3 linked regions of the Homo sapiens genome follow. The protein of the gene in region 1 binds, or shares a complex with, the protein of each later gene. Each region holds a gene or a part of one and is shown in the gene's direction. Other genes may lie near its edges.

The links.
Region 2: DRC4 (region 1) and DRC10 share a complex: the UniProt entries of both Homo sapiens proteins name them as parts of the nexin-dynein regulatory complex.
Region 3: DRC4 (region 1) and DRC7 share a complex: the UniProt entries of both Homo sapiens proteins name them as parts of the nexin-dynein regulatory complex.

The regions. Positions count from the first base shown.
Region 1 is NC_000016.10:90,024,965-90,032,879, forward strand, and holds part of DRC4 (dynein regulatory complex subunit 4), read left to right. Parts: intron 1-2,670; exon of another isoform or gene 2,671-2,671; coding exon 2,672-2,758; intron 2,759-3,934; exon of another isoform or gene 3,935-4,937; intron 4,938-6,211; exon of another isoform or gene 6,212-6,334; coding exon 6,335-6,532; intron 6,533-7,753; coding exon 7,754-7,915. UniProt on the Homo sapiens protein: Component of the nexin-dynein regulatory complex (N-DRC), a key regulator of ciliary/flagellar motility which maintains the alignment and integrity of the distal axoneme and regulates microtubule sliding in motile axonemes.
Region 2 is NC_000012.12:113,210,669-113,218,583, reverse strand, and holds part of DRC10 (dynein regulatory complex protein 10), read left to right. Parts: intron 1-7,915. UniProt on the Homo sapiens protein: Component of the nexin-dynein regulatory complex (N-DRC), a key regulator of ciliary/flagellar motility which maintains the alignment and integrity of the distal axoneme and regulates microtubule sliding in motile axonemes.
Region 3 is NC_000016.10:57,697,317-57,705,231, forward strand, and holds part of DRC7 (dynein regulatory complex subunit 7), read left to right. Parts: intron 1-596; 5' UTR 597-633; coding exon 634-836; intron 837-1,533; coding exon 1,534-1,708; intron 1,709-2,828; coding exon 2,829-2,954; intron 2,955-4,619; coding exon 4,620-4,814; intron 4,815-7,126; exon of another isoform or gene 7,127-7,278; intron 7,279-7,559; coding exon 7,560-7,718; intron 7,719-7,915. UniProt on the Homo sapiens protein: Component of the nexin-dynein regulatory complex (N-DRC) a key regulator of ciliary/flagellar motility which maintains the alignment and integrity of the distal axoneme and regulates microtubule sliding in motile axonemes.

The DNA.
Region 1 (7,915 bases):
TTTTCTTCTCATCAGTGTTTTCTAAAATTTCCACATAATATTTTCTCTCTCTCTTTTTTTTTTTTTTTTTGAGGTAGAGTCTTACCCTGTCACCCAGGCTGGAGTGCAGTGGCATGATCTTGGCTCACTGCAACCTCTGCCACCTGGGTTCAAGCGATTCTCCTGCCTCGGCCTCCCGAGTACCTGGGACTACAGGTGCCCGCCACCACGCCTGGCTAATTTTTTTGTATTTTTAGTAGAGACAGGGTTTCACCATGTTGGCCAGGCTGGTCTTGAACTGCTGACCTCAAGTGATCCGCCCGCCTCAGCCTCCCAAAGTGCTGGGATGACAGGTGTGAGCCACTGTGCCTGGCTCCACCTAATGTTTTCATTCAGGACTAAATGAAACATAAATGAAGATAAATGGGCCAGTCGCGGTGGCTCACGCCTGTAATCCCAGCACTTTGGGAGGCTTAGGTGGGCAGATCACGGGTCAGGAGTTCGAGTACAGCCTGGCCAACATAGTGAAACCCCGTCTCTACTAAAAATACAAAAAATTAGCCGGACGTGGTGGTGGGCACCTGTAATCCCAGCTACTCAGGAGGCTGAGGCAGGAGAATGGCTTGAATCCGGGAGGCGGAGGTTGCAGTGAGCTGAGATCGCACCATTGCACTCCAGCCTGGGCAACAGAGCAAGACTCTGTCTCAAAAAAAAAAAAAAAAAAAAAAAAGAGAGTTCAAGACCAGCCTGGCCAACATGGTGAAACCTCGTCTCTACTAAAATACAAAAAAAAATTAGCCAGGCGTGGTGGCGGGCACCTGTAGTCCCAGCTCCTCGTGGAGGCTGAGGCAGGAGAATTGTTTGAACCCAAGAGGTGGAGGTTGCAGTGAGCCAAGGCAGCCTGGATGACGAGGGAGACTCCATCTCAAAAAAAAAAAAAAAAAGATAAATGGATTTAGGTTTTAATGTTTTTAAAAAATAAATAAAATTTCCACATGAAATTTGTAATTTTAAAAACGTTACATAGCTGGGCACAGCAGCAGTGAACTCCTGTGGTCCCAGCTCCTTGGGAGGCTGAGGTGGGAGTATCAGTTGAGCCCAGGAATTGGAGTCTGCAGTGAGCTATGTGATCACACCACTGCACTCCAGCTTGGGCGACAGAGCAAGACTTTGTCTTTAAAAAAGGTTACCGAGACATGTAGACACAGAAAAGCATGGGCTGAAGACTACTGGGAGTAGCAAAGTCAGCAGGATAGGATATGGAAATTTGTTACCTGCTTGAGTGCCCTGTAAATGGGTGGCCAGACAGAACTGCTCCTGGTGTCATGCGTGGTTTCAGCAACTTCCACAAGGGGGTGGGGTTAGAAGGTTCTCTCCCATCCTTGTCAAAGTTGCTAAAACCACGCACGACGCCATGTGCAGTTCCGTCTGGCAGCCCATTTACAGGGCTCTCGTGGTGGGTGCTGTCTGCCCAAGCTTTCTTGACCAGGCTTCTCTGAAGGAAGTTTCTCTTTGAAAGAAAGGAAACTTGTGGTTGTCACAACCGATCGTGGTTATGGAGGCATTTCTCCCTAAGCTTACTGAATGGTGTCTTGCAGGTCTTTTCCATGGTGGTCACCAATGTTGCCGCCAGCATGGTAACATTTGGCAGTGTGGTATTGAGGGTCTTTCCTCTGTTTTGCATCCACAGCAGAGGTCTTTACTTTTTACCAAGGAGTGAGTGGGTTTGGAATGGGTTCCCCCCTCTCTTAGTTTTTGGAGACGGGGTCTCGTTCTACTGCCCAGGCTGGAGTGCGGTGGTGCACCATAGCTCACTGCAGCCTTAAACTTCTAGGCTCAAGTGATTGTCCTGCCTTGGCCTCCCAAAGTGCTGGGATGACACGTGTGAGCCACTGCGCCTGGTCACCGTATACCAAGGAATGAGTGGGTTTGGAATGAGTTCCCTCTCTTTTCTTTTTTTTTTTTTTTAAGTTACAGTTTGCTTTTTGAGATGGAGTCTCACTTTGTTGCCCAGGCTGGAGTGCAATGGTGGGATCTTGGCTCACTGCAGCCTCTGCCTCCCGGGTTCAAGCGATTCTTCTGCCTCAGCCTCCCGAGTAACTGGGACTATAGGCACACACCAGCACACCTGGCTAGGTTTCCTCTCTTTTTTTTTTTTTTGAGATGGAGTCTCACTCTGTCGTCCTGGCTGGAGTGCAGTGGTGTGATCTCGGCTCACTGCAAACTCCATGCCCCAGGTTCAAGCCATTCTCCTGCCTCAGCCTCCCGAGTAGCTGGGACTACAGGCGCCCACCGGCACGCCCGGCTAATTTTTTTTTGTATTTTTAGTAGAGATGGGGTTTCACTGTGTTAGCCGGGATGGTCTTGATCTCCTGACCTCGTGATCCGTCCACCTCGGCCTCCCAAAGTGCTGGGATTACAGGCGTGAGCCACCACGCCCGGCTCCTCTCTTTTCTAGAAGGAATGTTCTCCTTCTCAAAAGGAAGGTTTCTCCTTTGTGCTTCTCCAAATGCAACAACAGGATGTGTGTGTGGTAAAGGGTGGGAACACTCAGGGCAATGATGTGCTCCAGGTGAGCAGAAGGGAGAGAGGTTCCAGAACCTTCTCTGCCAAATGTTCCTGGGAGCAAATCAGAGCCAGCCAAGAAGGGGAAGCTGTTAGAGTCTCTCTTACCCCATTATTTCCACCAAAGGCACCGAAAAAGAAAGGGAAGAAAGGCAAAGCCAAAGGCACCCCGATTGTCGATGGGCTCGCTCCAGAGGACATGAGCAAGGAGCAGGTGAGCAGAGCGGGCTGTGGCCCAGTCCCCGGGTGGGCGTGGGCGGGCACCACGCAGGGTGCCTACGCCGAGTGTCCATCTTGCCATGTGGATCCACCCTTCTGTCCAAGCCAGAACACGCCCCCCGCGTGGCCCATAATTCCCATCAGCGGCAAAGCTTTCGGCTGCACCATGTCTTTTCAGAAAGGTAGTGCAGCCTGTGAAAGAGCTTTGTAACAGGGTGGTAGGAGTGTGGAAGGACATGCTTTTCTGATCTAAAAGCTGTTTTTAATTTCGTGTATTCTCTTTCAATCTTACCCTTTTTTTGCACCTGATGTGTATAGACTTATCGTAGAACACACATGTAGCATTCTCCTTTATTTTATTCACCATTAAACATTATGTCAAAAAGGAAGTTTTTGAAAGAAGGATGATTTACTTCAAATCACATCTGAATCTGATTAATCGTTCATTTTTTTTTTTTTTTTTTTTTTTTTTTTTGAGACGGAGTCTCACTCTGTCGCCCAGGCTGGAGTGCAGTGGCGCGATCTCGGCTCACTGTGAGCTCCACCTCCCGGGTTCACACCATTCTCCTGCCTCAGCCTCCCGAGTAGCTGGGACTACAGGCACCTGCCACCACGCCTGGCTAATTTTTTTTTTGTATTTTTAGTAGAGACGGGGTTTCACCGTGTTAGCCAGGATGGTCTCGATCTCCTGACCTCGTGATCCACTCGCCTCGGCCTCCCAAAGTGCTGGGATTACAGGCATGAGCCACCACGCCTGGCCAGTCATTCATTGTTTTTGATAAAAGTCCCAACAAGGAGTAACAGCATCAGGGCTGCCTTTTTCTTGTTGCTTATTTTGGGGAGGAGGTGATGTTTTTATAGTTTCTTTGTAGGAGTTAGTTTAAGTCTCTTCTTCATTTGGATGTAGTTAAGGGCTACAGAACATAATTACATAATTACAATTTTACCTAAAAGGCTCCTGGAGACGGCAGTGTGTGGCAAGCACGGTGCACCCTCTGGCCTCTGCCCTCATGGACGACTGCCTGTGAGCACCTGACATGGGACATGAGGGCTGTGTCAACTCTGTGTTATTGTTAATAAATCTTACCTTCTTTTGATAGTTGTAAGATAAAAAATCAATACGAAGGAGACTGAAAGAGTCTCATGACCTGAAGTTGGAGCTAGGCAGAGGTCCTTGAACAATGGTAAAGAATGGCTTTATTTTACATGCAGGCAAACCATTGGCAGTTTAAGCCAGTGGCTAAGCAGAGAGGTGATGGGGTCAGGTTTGTGTTCTGGAAAGATGTCTGGAGCTGCTGGATGGAGAATGGATTGAACACTGCGTTGTCCCAGCATGTGAGCTGCTGCCCGTCTCCCTGTCCGCTTCCCATTCCTGTGGAGACAGGCCTTGTGGGGCAGTGGCCATGGAGCCTACGGGGCAGCCTACGGGGCAGGCTACGGGGCAGCTTACGGGGCAGGCTATGGGGCAGCCTACGGGGCAGGCTACGGGGCAGGCCCTTGCACTGCACATCGCACGTTGAGCCACAGACTCAGAAGGCTTCTTCAGGGTCCAGGCAGGTGGGGAGGGATGGGGGTGACCTGGAGACTCCTGCCCCGCAGCAGAGGACAGTTTCATCTGTTCACTGGGGAGTGCCTTGTGGGCCTAGGAGTTCAGTGCTGTTTTTTTCTGATTTTCCAAGAGAAGCTGGAAATCTGGATATTTATAAGAAATCTGAATATTGAGTGATGGCAAAATCTCAACACCATGTGAGCCAAACAGACCAGTCAGGAGCCCTGGTTCAGGCTCTGCCCAGGAGCCTCTAAAGGTCTGTGACGTGAAGACATTTGTCGTTGTGCCGAGGCACTGGTTGGATTCGGGGGTGCGTGTCTCCCTCATGTCTGCCCGGCATCCTCGGCTCAGAACCCCTCCTGCTGCTCCTTCTTGTTTGCTCGTTGTCTTGTCTTCTTTTGAGGTGAGAAATGTGTTTTCCCTGTGGGGAATGTGGTGTTGAGAAAGAAAAAGGCTCACAGTAAGTGGCCTGGGGCTGTGCCCGAAAAGTAACTGATTCTGACGGAATCTCGCTGTGTGGCCCAGGCTGGAGTGCGGTGGCGCGACCTCGGCTCACTGCAAGCTCCACCTCCTGGGTTCACACCATCCTGCTGCTTCAGGCTGCCCAGTAGCTGGGACTGCAGGTGCCTGCCATCACGCCCGGCTAATTTTTTTGTATTTTTAGTAGAGACGAGGTTTCACCGTGTTAGCCAGGATGGCCTTGATCTCCTGACCTCATGATCTGCCTGTCTCTGCCTCCCAAAGTGCTGGGATTACAGGTGTGAGCCACCGCGCCTGGCAGTAACTGATTCTTAAGGGAAATGAGCTCCCGAGAAAGCTGGAAGCCTGTCCTACATTTTTTTTTAACCTATTTGCAGATTCGCAATTGAACCCTCTTGAGATTTTAGAGTCTACTGGTTTTGTATATTTTTTGCTTAACATTATATCTTCAAAGGTGAATTTTTTTTCATTTAGCATTATGATATGAATTTGTTTAAATGCTGCTACATCATTTGCATATTTTTTTTGGGTTAATGTGATATTTCTCCTAGTTGATATACTCTAATTTTTCAACCATTTCCATATTTATTTATTTATTGTTTAGAGACAGGGTCCTGCTCTGTCACCCAGGTGGAGTGCAGTGGTGTGATCACGGCTCACGGCAGCCTTGACCTCCCAGGTCCAAACGATCCTCCTACCTCAGTCTTCTGAGTAGCTGGGACTATAGGCATGTGCCACCACTCCTGGCTAATTTTTTTTTTTTTTTTTTTTTGTAGAGACAGGGTTTTGCCATGTTGCCTAGGCTGTTCAACTCTGGGGCTCAAAAGATCCTCCCAAAGTGGTGGGAGCCACCATGCCTGGCTGTTTGTGTATTTTTTGAGACAGATTCTCACTCTGTCACCCAGGCTGGAGTGTAGTGGCATGATCATAACTAACCGCAGCCTCAACCCCCTGAGCTTGAGTGACCCTCCCACCTCAGCTCTCCCAGTAGCTGAGACTATAGGTGCGTGCCATCATGCCTAGTTAATGAAAAAAAGTTTTTGCAGAGATGGGGTCTTGCTATGTTGCCCAAGCTGGTCTTCAGCTCCTGGGCGCGAGGGATCCTTCAACCTCAGCCTCCCAGAGTGCTGGGGTTGCAGGCGAGAGCCACCGCGCCTCGCTTATTTCCCTGTTTAAACTGGTCTTAGGTTATTTCCTTTTTGATATTTTTGCTGTTGTAATAATGGTGTGGGTAATATCTTTGAGCAAGATGCTCTTATATTTCTTTTGAGAAATTTTTTAGGCATCAATTCTCAGGAATGGATGAAAGGATCTAGTTATTTTATGATTATTGGCCAAATTGAAGAGAATTCTGCCACCTGCTGAATGCATTCTGTCTCCGGAGCTTCCTAGCCTTATATTTTAACTTTTTACATTTAGCTGTTTATTTTTAGGTGAAGTTGAGTCCTCCCTCTTTCTTCCTTGCCTTTCGCCGGCCACACGCCCCGTTGCCGTGCATGGGCCCCTGCTCAGTGCCTCACCTGACCCACTGCACCTGGCCAGGTGGAGGAGCATGTCAGCCGCATCCGGGAGGAGCTGGACCGCGAGCGGGAGGAACGAAACTACTTCCAGCTGGAGCGGGACAAGATCCACACCTTCTGGGAGATCACACGGAGGCAGCTGGAGGAGAAGAAGGCTGAGCTGCGGAACAAAGACCGGGAGATGGAAGAAGCCGAGGAGAGGCACCAGGTGGAGATCAAGGTGAGTGGGGCCGGCCTGCACGTGCTAACCTGGTCACCACAGAGCCCCAGAGGAGCTGGATCCAGTGAGGGTGCAGGTGGGACATTTTCTGTTCTTGGCTTTGGGAGTCACAGCCTTAAAGGTGTTTTTTATAAAAGCCTGAGGGAGAGACCCTGCAGGTCCTGAGGGTTTAAAATGCTGCCTCCACAACATGGAAGGAATATGGGCTCTGGGGGCAGACTGGCCTGTTTGCAACTCAGCTCTGCCACTTAATACCCCATGAGCTGGGGATGCACCTCACCTCCCAGCCTTGGTGTCCTGCTCTGTGCCTCAAGTGTACAGGTTTGCATAGGTGAACAGGCATGTGTAGCTGTGTAAAGGTGAGGCATGCAAGTGAGCAGGTGGATGCAAGTGAGCATGTGTGTGCAGGTGAGGAGGCGTGGCCAGGTGAGGAGGTATGTGCAGGTGAGGTGTGGGGAGGTGAGCACGTGGGGCAGGTATGTGCAGGTGAGCAGGTAGGTGCAAGTGACCAGGTGTCTACAGGTATGTACAGGTGAGGAGGTGTAGTACAGGTGTAGTGCAGGCGACCAGGTGTGTACGGGAATTTACAGGTGAGGAGGTGTACAGGTGACCAGGTGTGTACAGGTATGGACAGGTGAGAAGGTGTGGTACAGGTGTGGTGCAGGTGAGCAGGGGGGTACAGGTATGTACAGGTGAGGTGTGTTACAGGTACGGTGCAGGTGATCAGGTGTATACAGGAATGTACAAGTGAGGAGGTGTGGTACAGGTGACCAGGTGTGTACAGGTATGGACAGGTGAGGAGGTGTGGTACAGGTGTGGTGTGGGTGAGCAGGAGTGTACAGGTATGTACAGGTGAGGAGGTGTGGTACAGGTGACCAGGTGTGTACGGGTACGGACAGGTGAGGAGGTGTGGTACAGGTGTGGTATGGGTGACCAGGTGTGTACAGGTATGGACAGGTGAGGAGGTGTGGTACAGGTGACCAGGTGTGTACGGGTACGGACAGGTGAGGAGGTGTGGTGCAGGTGTGGTATGGGTGACCAGGTGTGTACAGGTATGGATGGACAGGTAAGGAGGTGTGGTACAGGTGACCAGGTGTGTACAGGTATGGACAGGTGAGGAGGTGTGGTACAGGTGTGCTATGGGTGACCAGGTGTGCACAGGTACGGAAAGGTGAGGAGGTGTGGTGCAGGTGAGCAGATGGTACTCCCATTGCCCTGCAGGTGTACAAGCAGAAAGTGAAGCACCTGCTATATGAGCACCAGAACAACCTGACAGAGATGAAGGCTGAGGGCACTGTAGTCATGAAGCTGGCACAGAAAGAGCACCGCATACAGGAGAGTGTGCTGCGCAAGGACATGCGGGCACTGAAGGTGGAGCTCAAG
Region 2 (7,915 bases), on another chromosome or scaffold:
GTAGTCCCAACTATTCAGAAGGCTGAGGTGGGAGGATCACCTGAGCCTGGGGAGGTCAAGGCTACAGTAATCCATGGTTGCACTGCTGCACTCTAGCCTGCGTGACAGAGTAAGACCCTGTCTATTAAAAAAAAAAGGCAGCCGGGCACGGTGGCTCACGCCTGTAAATCCCAGCACTTTGGGAGGCCAAGGCAGGCAGATCACCTGAGGTAGGGAATTTGAGACCAGCCTGACCAACATGGAGAAACCCCGTCTCTACTAAAAATACAAAAAAAAAAAATTAGCTGCGCGTGGTGGCGCATGCCTGTAATCCCAGCTACTTGGGAGGCTGAGGCAGGAGAATCGCTTGAACCCAGGAGGCAGAGGTTGCAGTGAGCCGAGATCACGCCATGGCACTCCAGCCTGGGAAACGAGAGCAAAACTCCATCTCAAAAAAAAAAAAAAAAGGTCAGGGTTTTTCAACCTCAGCTCTATTGATGTTTTGGGTGAGAAAATTCTTTGTTGTGGGGAACTATCCTGCCAATTGTAGGATATTTAGCAATATTACGAGCCTCTACCTACAAGATGCCAGTAGTAGCCTCTCTCAGTTGTGACAAGCAAATGCATCTCCCGATTATTGCCAAATGTCTTCTGGAGGGCAAAGTTGCCCCAGGTTGAAAACCACTGTGCTAAGCAAAAAGTCAGATGCAAACAATTACATACTGCATGATCCCATTTATATGAACTATCCAGGAAAGTTACATATGAGTGGAGGCCAGGGGCAGTGGCTCACGCTTGCAATTCCAGCACTTTGGGAGGCCAAGGAAGGTGGATTACTTGAGCCCGGGAGTTCAAGACCAGCCTGGGCAACATGCTGAAACCCTGTCTCTCCTAAAAACGTAAAAATTAGCCAAGCGTGGTAACACGCACCTGTAATCCCAGCTACTTGGGAGGCTGAGGCACGAGAATTGCTTGAACCAGGGGGGTGGAGGTTGCAGTGAGCCGAGATTACGCCACTGCACTCCAGCCTGGGCGACAGAGCGAGACTCAGTTTCAAAAACAAAACAACCACAACAAAAAATGTGAGTGGAAGCAGAGATTGTTTGCAGATTAGCTCATGGGAATTTGGGGGGAGTGATAGAAATGTTCTAAAACTGGATTGTAGTGATGTGGCAACTTCAGATACATTTACAAAAATAGTCACTGAGTTTTACACTTACAATGGGTGAATTTTATGGTAATGTAAATTATACCTCAATAGAGCTGTAAAAAAAAAAAAATTACACGTGTGATTAGTACTATGCAGGAAAGGTGAGAGAGTTTCCACAGGTTGTAAAGTGCTGTCTGTTCCAGTCTGAGGAGGGGTAGCCATTGAGCTAAGACCTAAAGAATGAGAAATTGTTAATCTAGGGAGAAATTATTCCTGGGGGGTTGGTTTCTGACAAAAGGAACATTATACATTAGTGCCTGAGAGCAGGACGGGTTTGAGATAGGCTGTTTTTTGTTTTGTTTTTTTGAGACAGAGCCTTTCTCTGTTGCCCAGGCTGGAGTGCAGTGGTGCAATCTCAGCTCACTGCAACCTACGCCTCTTGGGTTCAAGCGATTCTCCTGCCTCAGCCTACCAGGTAGCTGGAATTACAGGTGCCCAACACCATGCGCTGCTAATTTCTGTATTTTTAGTAGAGACTGGGTTTCACCATGATAGCCAGGCTTGGTCTCGAACTCTTGACCTCAGGTGATCCACCCACCTCGGCCTCCCAAAGTGCTCCCAAAGTCCTGTAATCCCAAAGATTACAGGAGTGAGCCACCGCACCCAACCCTGTTTCGTTTAATTTTAACTCTAGTCCCAGTTGGCAAACTGATTTCACTGCCCAGTAAAGGGTTACAACCTTAAGATTTTATTTTTTAAGCAGTTTTAGATTCACAGCAAAATTGAGAGAAAGGTAGAGAGAGTTCCTACATACCCCCTATTCCCACATGCACAGCCTGCCCCACCGTCAACCTCCCCCACCAGAGTGGTGCATTTGTTACAGTTGATGAACCTACATTGACACATCAGCAGCAGCATCCAAATTCCATAGTTTACATAAGGGATAAGGGTTCACGCTTGGTGTTGTACATTCTGTGAATTTGGACAAATGTATAATGATGGTATCCATCATTGTAGTAAGGTACATAGTATTTTCACTGCCCTAAAAATCCTCCCTGTTCTGCCTATTCATCCCTCCCTTCCCCCAGCCCTTAGACAACACTGATCTTTTTACTATCTCCATAGTTTTGCCTTTGCCAGAATGTCATATAGTTGGAGTGATACCATATGCAGCTTCTTCAGATTGGCTTCTTTCACTTAGTGATATGCATTTAAGTTTCTTCCATGTCTTTTCGTGGCTTGACAGCTCATTTCTTTTTAACACTGAATAATCCTGTATTCCATTGTCGGGATGCCCCACTGTTTATCTACTCAGCTCCTGAAGGACATCTTGGTTGCTTCCAAATTTTGGCAGTTGTGAATGAAGCTGCTATAAATATCCATAAGCTTTTTGTGTGTGCAGGTTTTTGTGTGCACATGAGTTTTCAACTCCTTTGGGTAAACACCAAGGAGTGCAATTACTGGATCGTACAGTAAGAGCAGGTTTAAATTTGTAAGAAAACAACTGTCTTCCCAAGTGGCCGCACCATGTTGCATTCCCACCAGCAATGACAGAGTTTCTGCTTCACATCCTCACCAGCATTTGGAGTTGTCGGTGTTCTAGATTTTGTCCATTCTAATAGGTGTGTAGTAGTTAAATATTTTTTTCAAGTTGGAGAAGTTGATTATAGAATAATCTAAATTCACTACTAGGAAATTCTTCCTTCTGTCTGAAACTGCCAAAGTGATGCTGTCTACACTTAGATATAACCAGAAATAAGCATTTCTAAAGTGACACTGTAACCAAAAGAGGAATTAAAATTCCTGATGAACTGATTGATAAGGAGGGGAGACTGGACAATGGGGAGTGATTTAAGGGAACTTGGTCTTCTTCGGTCACTAACAGGAGAACATGAATAATGCAGAAACCAGCAAAATTAAAAACAAAATAGTAAAAAGGAGTAAAAACTGCTTCTGTTTTGACTTTTTATAAAGCCTTTGATACAAAAACATATACCATATTATTTTGTGGAAAAGCACATCTATTTTAAGAAACATTAAAGTGTTGATATTAACATAATTTTTGAAGTAGTACTAAAAGTCATAAAAGCGTAACACTTTTGAGCAAGGATTTCATTTCATTCCCTCAACAGTGCTGTGTCCCATTTCACAGGTAGAACGTCAAGGCTTAGAGAGGTTAATCGACTTACCCAAAGCCACACAGCCAGGAAGTGGTGAGACACTGGAATTGCATTCCAAATGTGTTTTTCGTTTCCACTTCAGTAATGAGGAAATGAAAGCCCAGAAGATCAAGTGGACTTGCCCAAGGCTATATAGCTTGTGGTCAGTGGAAAGTATTTCATCATAACCAGCAACATAGAAATCTGTCCCGGGGGGCATGTTCCCTCCCAATCTGAGTCACTATCCCATGTCCTCTGTCTCCAAAGCACCAGATAATCCTGGAGCCTGCAGCCACCCAGCCAGCATTACAAACAGGGTCCCAACTGTCAATACCTCCAGCATTCATTGCTGCAGCCCTAGCCTGGGAATCTTTTACAGACCAGTTGTAAACCATAAAACACAGGTTCTCAAAAAGAACAAGAGAGGAGGATTGGGTAATAGTTCAAAATTAGTCACAGAAAGAAAAAAAAAACCACTCAACTATGAAAAAGTAAAAAATTCATTACATTTAAAACTTTTGTTTAAAAAATTCCAAGCCCTGAGTAAAGGGATGCAAAAGAATTCATAGGCCAATTGTTGGCCTACAGTTCTATCATGAAAATATGACTCTCTTTTCTGGCTCCAATTCAGGACATATATATTTTGCAAAACAACATTATCCTATTATGCCAGCATCTCCCAGTGAGGAGACAAGCCTGTTGGTAAATCTGGGTTTGCCATCTCATTTATTCAACAGTGATTTCTTTTTCTTTTCTCTTTTTTTCTCTTTTTTTTTTTTTTTTTTTTTGAGACGGAGTCTCACGCTGTCACCCAGGCTGGAGTGTGCAGTGGTGCGATCTCAGCTCACTGCAACTTCCATTTCCCTGGTTCAAGTGATTCTCCTGCCTCAGCCTCCCAAGTAGTTGGGATTACAGGCATGTTTCACCACACCCGGCTAATTTTTGTATTTTTAGTAGAGATGTTTCGCCATATTGCCCAGGCTGGTCTCAAACTCCTGACCTCAGGTGATCCACCTGCCTCGGCCTCCCACAGTGCTGGAATTACAGGTGTGAGCCACTGAGCCCAACCGCAACAGTGATTTCTTTATTGAGCACCTACTGTATAGTAGTTGGTTGGGATAGCAGGTTTCATCATGAATCTGTTGCTTCTTTCTAGCCCCTCACTTTCCCCCTCCCTAGACTTGAAAGCCTCAGATAAAACATACAGAGTTCGGAAGAAAGCTAGAGGTTTGGAGGGTAGTGAGATCTTTCTGAGGCTAAAAAGAAAATTCCTCTTGAGCCCAGGAGTTCAAGACCAGCCTGGGCAACATAGCAAGACCTTGGTTTTTTTGTTTTTTGTTTTTGTTTTTTTTGAGACAGAGTCTCACTGTGTCACCCAGGCTGGAGTGCAGTGCTGCAATCTCGGCTCACTGCAACCTCCACCTCCCAGGTTCAAGCAATTCTCCCGCCTCAGCCTCCACAGGTGCCCACCACCATGCCCAGCTAATTTTTGTATTTTTAGTAGGGACAGGGTTTCACCATGTTGGCCAGGTTGGTCTCAAACTCCTGACCTCAAGTGATCAACCTGCCTTAGCCTCCCAAAGTGGTGGCATTACAGGCGTGGGCCACTGCGCCCGGCCAGAAGTCAATCTTAAAATCAAGAGACTGGACAGAATAGTGCTGATGGGGTGCAGGCCCTGTCACTTCCTAGCTGTAAACTAACTAGAATCATCTAACCTCTCTCTCTGTCTCCCTTTCTTCATCTGTGAAATAGAGGTAATAATAGCACCTACCTCATAGGGTTGTTGCAAGGATTAAAGGAATTAATTCGTATATAGCATTCAGAACAGTGTCTGCTACACAGTAAGTTCTCAAGAACTTACTTAGCTAATGTTAAAATGGTATTCCTTAAAATGAGATCCGGATGAGGATGGAAAAACTACCTATCAGGTACTATGCTTATTACCTGGGTGATGAAATAATCTGTACACCAAACCCCCATGACATGAAATTTACCTATATAACAAACCTGCACATGTAACCCGAACCTAAATTAAGAGTGAATTTAAAAAGAGAGAGAGAAATCCATTTCCCACACTCCAGTTGTTTTGGTTTTTTTTTTTTTTTTTTTTTTTTTTTTAGCACCCTCTGACTTTTCCACTTGCCAGTTTGGATTTGTAGGGTAGTTGTTAAGTGTTGGGTTTTTTCCTTCTCTCCAGGGGGAAAAAATATATAATTTAGTTCAAATCTTTTTTTTCCTCAAAATATTCTAAGAGCAAAATTAATAAAATATCCAACAAGCCTGTTTGAATGAAGACGAGGTATAATTTGCATGATAAAGATATATTTCCATTTATAAAGTTCATCAGCAGAATTAATGACAAATAAAGGGAATATCCAATTAAAGTTTCCCATCCATTAACAATTTGCTTCACTCTCAGGGCAGGAATTTTAAACGGAGATGCTTAAGTTGGAAATGATTTAAATATTAAGGTTGGTGGCATTAAAAAGGACATGAAATGATCATATTAGGATTCAAGGAAAAGAGATTCTCCAGTCATTTTTGTCGTCAGAGTCAGATGCATTTCCCCTCAATCCTAGTTCCACGGGCTTTATCTTGTTCACCCAAATGAGCTGTCAAGAAATGATGGGTGTCATCATAATCAAAGAAAACAAGTTTGCCCTTTAAAGCAAAAGAGGTAATTTGGCTGAAAGCAAATTGGAAACATTTCATGTAACGTTGCGTTTCCAGCCGCACTCTCTGAAGAATTCAGGCATTTTGATTTATGCCTGAGAGCTTTGGGGTACAATGGAGAGGACTGCATTCATTAACTACCTTGTTCACATTCATCCTGTAGCCATGGGCAAAGATCCTTCATCCTCAGAGAGCCTGAGAAATCTCCATGGCTGTCCCTAAAACTTTTTTTTCACTTACAAGATAGGATCTAGGCTGGGCATGGTGGCTCACGCCTGTAATCCCACCACTTTGGGAGGCCAAGGTGGGCAGATCACCTGAGGTCAGGAGTTTGAGACCAGACTGGCCAACATGATGAAACCCTGTCTCTATTAAAAATACAAAATTAGGCTAGCGTGGTGGTGCACGCCTGTAATCCCAGCTACTTGGGAGGCTGAGACAGGAGACTGCTTGTACCTGGGAGGCAGAGGTTGCAGTGAGCCCAAATCACACCATTGCACTCCAGCCTGGGTGACAACAGCAAAACTCCAGCTTAAAAAAAAAAAAAAAAAAGAGGAGAGATAGGATCTCGCTCTGTCACCCAGGCTGGAGTGCAGTGGTGCGATCATGGCTCACTGTAGCCTCAACCTCCCTGGCTCAAGCAATCCTCCTGCCTCAGCTCCCCAAATAGCGGGGACTACAGGCACCTGCCACCATGACAGGCTAATTTTTTTTTTAACTTTTTGTAGAGGTCTCATTTTGTTGCCCATGCTGATCTTGAACTCCTGGGCTCAAGGAATCTTCCCTCCTTGGCCTCCCAAAGTGCTTGGATTGCAGCTGTGAGCCACCATGCCCAGCCTCCTAAAACTTTGTCTTCAGGAAAAGCCTCAAAGGATCTCATGAGATTCATTAGGGAGCAGGAAGTGTGTGTGAATCAAAGTGATTGAAGATAATTCCCAATCCTCTGCTCCCAAAGGGGCTTCTGGTTTGTTTTTTGTTTTTTTGTTTTTTTAAGAGACAAGATCTCACTCTGTTGCTCAGGCTGGAATGCAGTGGCCTGATCATAGCTCACTGCATCCTCAAACTCCTGGGCTCAACAAATCCTCCTGCCTCAGCCTCCCAAAGTGTTGGGATTACGGGCGTGAACCATGATACCTGGCCTGATATTGAATACATTCTGCCTTGCCAAGGAACTAAACATCCTTAGCACCTGATCTGGCCTGCCTTTCTTTTTCGTTCTTAGTCACTTTGGGTGTTTCTTTGATTCCCTGCCATTCTCTTGGTGTGTTCTTTGGTTTGGTGAGTTGAAGTTATCTTTTGTGGCTTCAAGTGTCACTTCCTTCTCCTGGGCAACATAGCAAGACCCTATATCTACAAAAATAAAAATACAATAATTAGCTGGGAATGGTGGCACGTGCCTGTAGTATCAGCTACTCGGGAGCATGAGGCAGGAGGACTGTTTGAGCCCAGGAAGTCGAGGTTGCAGTGAGCCATGATCGTGCCACTGCACTCCCTGGATAATGGGAAGGCCAAGACACCATTGTCCACTGCAGTATGGCAGCTAGAGCTCAATGAGTTTAAAAGTGAGCTCATTGTCCTCCCCTCCAAATGTCCTCTCCTCTCCCAATTTCTGCCATAGTTTCTTAAGGGCCCCATCTTTCTCTACCAGTCACCCAAACTCAAAACTCTTTCACTCAAGTCCTAATGATTCTTTCTTCAAAACATTTCTCACATCTACAGACAATATGAAAATAAAAGTGGCACAGGTAACCTGTAAGTAGTAACTTACAGCTTTCATTGGTGCTTACTTCTTAGGAGAGGGGGAAAGACAGACAATAAACAAATAAACAGGTGCATATAGGGATGTCAGATGGTGATACTTAACCTGGAGAACGAACAGGATAAGGGGGAAGAGATGAAGAAGAATCAGGGTGAGGGATGGGGATGTTATGGGGGGTGTCCATCTGAGACATG
Region 3 (7,915 bases), about 32 Mb from region 1:
GTAATCCCAGCACTTTGGGAGGCCAAAGCAGGAAGATCGCTTGAGGCCAGGAGTTTGAGCCTGGGCAACATAGCCAGACCCTGTCTCTACCAAAAAAAAAAAATAGCCAGGTGTGGTGGTGTGCACCTGTGGTCTCAGCTACTGGGGAGGCTGAGGTGGGAGGATTGCTTGAGCCTGGGAGTTTGAAGCTGCGGTGAGCCATGATCGTGCTGCTGCACTCCAAGCCTGAGTGACAGAGCAAGACCCTGTCTCAAAAAAATAAAAAATTTAAAAAAAAAGATAACTGTCAAATATACTAAAAGCAAATCGACACGTGCCTTTCCCTGTCCTGTCCTGAGGATGGCTTCCAACCGGAGGCCTGCTTTGTCTTTGTTGTAAAGGAATATTTGCCAGGATTAGAAAGGTGTTACAGATGGGGTAGCACCAAACAGAGACTTTCTCCATGTTTGAAAGGAAGTCAAAGAGGGAATCACTCCCTATGTGTTCGACACCTCCTCAAAACCATCTCCCAGGCCTCCCGGGGATGCCCAGATGGTGTTGGTGGCTCCTGCCTGGGCTGACAGTCGGCCATGGAGTATACTTACCCTTCCCCACAGAGACATTCCATCTCCAGACACCCAGAGACGCTCCAGAATGGAGGTCCTGAGGGAGAAGGTGGAGGAGGAGGAGGAGGCCGAGCGGGAGGAGGCGGCCGAGTGGGCTGAATGGGCGAGGATGGAGAAAATGATGAGGCCAGTTGAGGTGCGGAAGGAGGAAATCACCTTAAAGCAGGAGACGCTCAGAGACCTGGAGAAGAAGCTGTCAGAGATCCAGATCACTGTCTCAGCGGAGCTCCCGTGAGTGTGGCAGGGTGGGGGCCCTGGCAAGGGTAGACCGGGGCTGGGCACAGGGAGACCCAGGCAGAGTGCTGGTGCCTGGTCTGGTAGGGTGACCAGGAGATAGAGGGAAGCAGTTATGAGTGAAGGCTTTCTGCTTTCAAATGGCCTGGGCCGAGTGTCCATGCTCTCCCAACTAGCTGTGTGACCTTGGGCAAGTCACTCAGCCTCTCGGTGCCTCAGTGCCTTTATCTGTCTAAAAGTGCAGGTGCTGGCCAGGCGCTGTGTCTCACATCTGTAGTCCCAGCACTTTAGAAGGAAAAGGTGGGAGGATCGCTTGAGGCCAGGAGTTCGAGACCAGCCCGGGCAACATAGCAAGACCCCCCCACCCATGTCTACAAAAAATACAAAAATTAGCCAGGTGTGGTGGTGCCTATAGTCCCAGCTACTTGGGAGGCTGAGGTGGGAGGGTCACTTAAGCCCAGGAGTTCAAGGCTGCAGTGAGCTATGATTGTGCTATCACACTCCAGCCTGGGCAACAGAGCAAGACCTGTCTCTTAAATATATATATGAAAATGTGCAGATGTTAATGATACCTGCCTTCTCAGTAGCCGTGAGGATTAAATGAGGAAGGGGTAGAGCCAATGGCAACTCAGTGGAACCAGGGCTCCTGTGTGCCAGGCATGGCTTCCCTAATGCCATCCCTGTTGTGGCACAGGGCCTTTACCAAGGACACTATTGACATCTCCAAGCTGCCCATTTCCTACAAAACCAACACACCCAAGGAGGAACACCTGCTGCAGGTGGCAGACAACTTCTCCCGCCAGTACAGCCATCTGTGCCCGGACCGCGTGCCCCTCTTCCTGCACCCCCTGAACGAGTGTGAAGTGCCCGTAAGGCTGGCATGTTGAGGGCAGGGCTGGGGAGCCTGGGGCTGGAGAGCAGAGGGCACAGGGAAGTGGGGCAGGTTCTCCAAGGTCACTGGGCCAAATCACGGACCTCCTGTGGGCCAGAGCGCTTCTAGTCTGGGGGCAACATAAAGTCGAACGCCAGCAGGCCTCAGCAGGCTCAGTGCAGATTACCCTGGAGGGCGGTGGTGGTCTGGAGACCCCATGCCCCCGCCTAAAGAGGCAGCTGCTGATTGCTGCGGGGAAACTGCAGGCCTGGGGTTACCTGATCAAGAGGAGACTCGGGATTTGTGTGGGAGTCTCTGGTTTTTAAATGCTGGCAGCTGACATAAATGCTAAACATTGCCACGTGGGCCAAATAAAGCGGGTCTGTGGGTCCCTGTCAGCTCGTGGGCAGCTGTTTCCCACCCCCTGGATGAATCCCATGTCATTCCATCTACAGATGGAGAAACTGAGGCCCAGAAAGGCTCAGAGACATGCTCTGGGTCACAGGGCTGGAAGGAAAAAGCCAGAGCTTAGGTTCTTATGCCTGTCCTGGTCCAATTTGTCTTATTTCTCTGTCCTTCCCTGGACAGGCTGACCTCTGAGGCTTCAGACTGTACTGGTCGCCAGCTGGCCCCAGCCCAGAACCTCTGTAGGCCCCAGGGAGAGCATCGCTCCTGGGAGGAGAGCACAGTGCTCCCAGGAACCCCAGGAAACAGACCTGATCTCCTCATTCAGCCCTGACTTGCTGGGTCACCTCAGGCAGCTCTCAAGCCTGCTCTGGGCCTCAGGTGTCTCCACAATGCCCTAGGGGTTGAAGGCGGCAAAACTTCAAAGCCCTTCAAAGTCCAGATCCAGAATATGCTTGTGCTGTCTCCGGGTGCTGGCAACATGATAAGGGCCTCCCAGTCATTGCCACTGCGCCACTGATGGCTGCCATGTGCCAGATCTGGGCATCACCTTCCCAGCCAAGGGCTGCTCTGCCACCCCAGGTCATGTGGGCCTGGCCTCCTGCATTTGCTCAGGCCTCTAGGGTCCCCCTGTGGATTCAAGGAAGGCCCCAAGCTTGATCTCACAAGTTCTTATTGCCTTGACCCCACTGGCACCATCTCTCTCCTTGCAGAAGTTCGTGAGCACAACCCTCCGGCCCACACTGATGCCCTACCCCGAGCTCTACAACTGGGACAGCTGTGCCCAGTTTGTCTCCGACTTCCTCACCATGGTGCCCCTGCCTGACCCTCTCAAGCCGGTAAGCACCACTCACAGGCTGCATGCCTGAGCCCACCAGGACTAAGATGGTGTGAGAAACAAACTCACCCATCCAAACCCAAAGAATGGACTTAGAGGCCGGGCGTGGTAGCTCATGCCTGTAATCCCAGCATTTTGGGAGGCCAAGGCGGGCAGATCACAAGGTCAGGAGTTTGAGACCAGCCTGACCAACATGGCGAAACCCCGTCTCTACTAAAAATACAAAAATTAGCAGGGCGTGGTGGCACATGCCTGTAATCCTAGCTACTGGGGAGGCTGAGGCAGGAGAATCGCTTGAACCTGGGAAGCGGAAGTTGCAGTGAGCCAAGATGGCACCACTGCACTCTAGCCTGAGTGATAAGAGCAAAACTCTCAAAAAACTCTCTCAAAAAAAAAAAAAAAAAAAAGAATGGACTTAGAGACCTGGAGAACAGCGAAAGTGAGACTTTTAATGATGGTCTTGCAAGATTGGGTGTCTGATAGGCAGACACACCCAGCATAGTTTTAACAAGCAGTTTATCCCCTAGTGCGCAGGTCCCTCCCCTGGTTCCTCACAGGCTGAGTACTATGGGGTCACAATCTTCCCAGACATCGCCTATTGATTGTTAGGCAGGGGCTTTAGGTGTTTTTTCTAGGGTTGTTTTGCAGCATTTTATTGCAACCCACAATGCATTGCAATCCTAGTTAGCTCAGGGGCTCTTTAAGTATTTGACTTATGACCTGAGTAGCTGGGCAGGCTGATAAGAACAGACAAAGCGAGCTATTTTGCAGACTAGTAAACTTTTATCTTAGGCTAAACTTTTTTGGTTTGAGTGAGGGCAACTAAGGCGGTAGGTAAGGGGGAGGAAGGAGAAGGCTGACAAACAGGCATTGGCTATTCAAGCAGGGGCCTAGTATATCCTGGGGTTTTTGTAGTTTGCTGACCTAAGCCTATTCAAGGCACTTTGCCTTGGAAACGGATCACTGTGTACATGATTTCCTTCAATGGGATGTCAGGCACGGTCTGGGAAAAGGAAGCTCAGCCAGGCTCAGGGTACAGCCTCTCAGGGCCCCTAAGGGCAAACAGGCCTAGAGAGAGACAGCCACTTGCCTGAGGACACACAGCAAGCCTGGGCTTCTGGTTCCCACCTCTTTTCTCCTTTGCATTCAGAGCTTCCCTGCCATGGCTTCAAGCGGTACAGGAAAGAGAGAGGGGAGGCCCGGCTGCCCGTGGCCCTAACCCCATCTTTGGGCTTCTGACCAAATTCGTCAGCTTCTCCTTCAGAATAGAGGGAGGGAGGAAGAAAGGGCAAGGTCAACAGTGGAGAACTGATAAAGGGAGGAGGAGGAAAGGTGGGTATCGAAGGAAGGGGGAGCATTGGAGCAAAACAGTAAACTTACCAGTCAGAGGGCATTAGATCAGACACTCCTACAGTCCAGAAGGTTTCCCCCTATCAGGAAGTCCATAGCCCCTTCAAATGACAGGCAAATGTGAATGGCATGGTGTCTGGTTGTCATTCCATTCTTAGCAGGCTCCCTGACCCCACAAGGGTTAGGGGCCCAAAGCAGGTCCAGCCTGTGCATTGGTCCTGGCTCCCCACCCTGACAGGTGGTGGGCTGTGACCGGTGGGGAGGACAGGCTGGGGCAGCGGGGCCCCAGCTGTGCTGACCGTCCCACTGTGACCAGCCCTCGCACCTGTACTCCTCGACCACTGTGCTCAAGTACCAGAAGGGGAACTGCTTTGACTTCAGTACGCTGCTCTGCTCCATGCTTATCGGCTCTGGCTATGATGCTTACTGCGTCAACGGCTACGGCTCGCTGGACCTGTGCCACATGGACCTGACGCGGGAGGTGTGCCCACTCACTGTGAAGCCCAAGGAGGTATGGTCGGGCTTGAGCTGCCCGGGTTTCCCAAAGGATGAACATTCCCGGTGCTGTCGTGCCATCCTTAGAGACGTCCATCACTGCCGCCTCATCCCCAGCCCTGGCCACGCGGACACAGATCCCTCACCACCAGCCCTTCCGCTGCCCTGGAGTTCATATTTCAAACCACCAGTGATTTATGTCCTCGGTGTCTTAACACATCCAGCCCAGTTTTCCAAGCTGGCTGTTCTTCTCTGTCTGTTGTAACTCAGTTTTCAGCTACTATGCTCCCTGCTTGGTAAATTTTATGAATGCCACATAGCTTATATCTTAAGTCAAACGATTCCAAATTTACCCTATGCATTTGATAAAAATCCAGCCAGCCATTTTTATATAAGAAAATAGGCCAGGTGCGGTGGCTCATGCCTGTAATCCCAGCACTTTGGGAGTCCAAGGCGAGCAAATCACTTGAGGTCAGGAGTTCGAGACCAGCCTGGCCAACATGGCGAAACCCTGTCTCTATCAAAAATACAAAAAAATTAGCCACGCATGGTGGCATGTGCCTGTAGTCCCAGTTACTCAGGAGGCTGAGACAGGAGAATCACTTGAAACCCGGGAGGCAAAGGCTGCAGTGAACTGAGATTGCGCCATTGCACTCCAGCCTGGGTGACAGAGCAAGACTCCATCTCAAAAAATAAATAAAAGAAATAAAAAATAACAGACAAGTGAACAGACATTTGGTTCTCAGTCCCACACTCCCGAGGTAAAAAGCCTGCTTTTTTTTTGAGACAGGGTCTCTTCCACTCTGTCACTCAAGCTGGAGTGCAGTGGCATGATCTCGGCCCACTGCAACCTCAACCTCCTGGACTCAAGCCGTCCTCCTGCCTCAGCCTCCCAAGTAGCTGAGACTACAGGCGAGTACCACCACGGCCAGCTAATTTTGTTTGTTTTTTATAGGTTCTCACTATGTTGTCCAGGCTGGTCGTGAACTCCTGGACTCAAGCAATCCTCCCGCCTCAGCCTTCCAAAGTGCTGGGATTATAGGCCTGAGCCACCGTGCCTGGCCCTCAAGGCCCCTTTTTAATAGCAAAAAAAAAAAAAAAAAAAAAAAAAATCACCAACTGTTCAGTGGCTGGTGGCTGTGTTTTTAGATCTGCTCATTAAGATCTCCATAAGGACCACAGGCTGCTACAGACACAAGAAATACTCTGGAATGAATATCAGAATCACAAATGCATCTCTTTACATTTAGAAAATAGTCATGCTACAGACAGAAAATGCTCTTCATGAGGTGGATTAATTCCAGGACTCTGGGATCAGGGTCAGGCTCCTGTGGGTGTCCGCAGCTTGGAGATGGGGATCCAGGGACCTGAGGCATCCAGCAGGATCACTGTGTACCTGGGTTATACCTGGGTGAGCACCCAGGGACCCCAGGGTGGGTGCTCTGGTGGGAGAAGGGCGAGACAGAAGGGGAAGCACAAGAAGAGCCTTGCTCTCTCAGGCCCACCTCCCCAAGAGAAGATGGAGCACGAGCTCCGCCATGGCTTTTGGCTTCAAAAGCCTCTGGCTGGGCACGGTGGCTCATTTTGGGAGGCTGTAATCTCAGCATTTTGGGAGGCTGAGGCAAGTGGACCACTTGAGCGCAGGAGTTCCAGACCAGCCTGGCCAACATGGCAAAACCCCGTCTCTACTAAAAATATAAAAATTAGCTGGGTGTGGTGGTGCATGCCTGTAAACCCAGCTACTCGGGAGGCTGAGCCAGGAGAATCGCTTGAACCTGCAAGGTGGAGGTTGCAGTGAGCTGAGATCGCACCATTGCACTCCAGCCTGGGCAACAGAGGGATACTCTGGCTCCAAAAAAAAAAAAAAAAAAAAAAAGCCTCTGAGCTCCCACCCGGGCATCTCAGCTCTCAGCTCAGCCAAAAGCTTAATGATTAACATTATATCAATAACAAACAGATGCAGAGAACTTTCGGGTTTAAAATCCGCTTTCATGTCCATTGTGCTTGTTGCTCCCCACGATGGCCCAGTGTGGTAGATATTGTCACTTTTATGTTACAGATGAGTATGTTGATGAAATCAAAAGGTAACATAATGTGGCCAAAGTCACACAGCAGGAAAATGGAGACTCAGGGAACTTGAAACGCTGGAGATTCACTATTTCTCCTTCATGACTATCACAGGCCCACCTCTGCAGCCTCTGCAGTGCTCTTTCCTGGGAATACTTCTTGCCACTTAGCACACATTTGTAGACACGCAAGCGTACACACACACACACACACACACACACACACGGTTTCTTCTCCTTCCTGGCCCAGCAAACTGTTAAAGTCAACATATGAGGCCCTCCGATGACAAGATCTGAAAAATCCAACTCCTGACAATTCTCCCCACTTCTGGATCAGACCCAGGTCATGGCTAGGATGGGTGGTGAGGATTGAAGAGGAGAAAGCCACACCTCCTGAGCTCCTGGCCCTGACAGGTACCTCCCTCGGGCATTTTTTCTGTCTTTACTTCTCAGAAAGAGGCTGGGGAGAAAGTTCCTATTATTCTCACACCATGAACCTGAGATTCAGAGAAGTGAGAGGACCTCCCAAGGTCATGGAGCTGGAGCTGCATTTAGAGCCAGAAAGGCCACAGGCTACAGGAGTAGCTGCCATCCCCCGGTCTGAGGGACTGGCTGGGCGGGTCTCACCTCTTGGAGTTGCACATGTAAAGGGGGGATGCAGGGCCACTGACCCTTCCTCTTCTTTTGGGTGACAGACCATCAAGAAGGAGGAAAAGGTGCTGCCTAAGAAGTATACCATCAAACCCCCCAGGGACCTGTGCAGCAGGTTTGAGCAGGAGCAAGAGGTGAAGAAGCAGCAGGAGATCAGAGCCCAGGAGAAGAAGCGGCTGAGGGAGGAGGAGGAGCGCCTCATGGTGGGTCCTCAGCCCTGAATCCCCTGGGCTCAGCTATCGAGAAAGGACTGCTAGGGATGGGAAAAGAGGCATAGGTCATGGAGGGGATGTGTGTATGGACCCCCCAACTAGGTCCACCTCACAATCACCCCCAACCTCTACCTGGCCCTGCAGGAATCTCCCACTGGTGGTCAGCCAGCTTCTCATGATGGACTCCT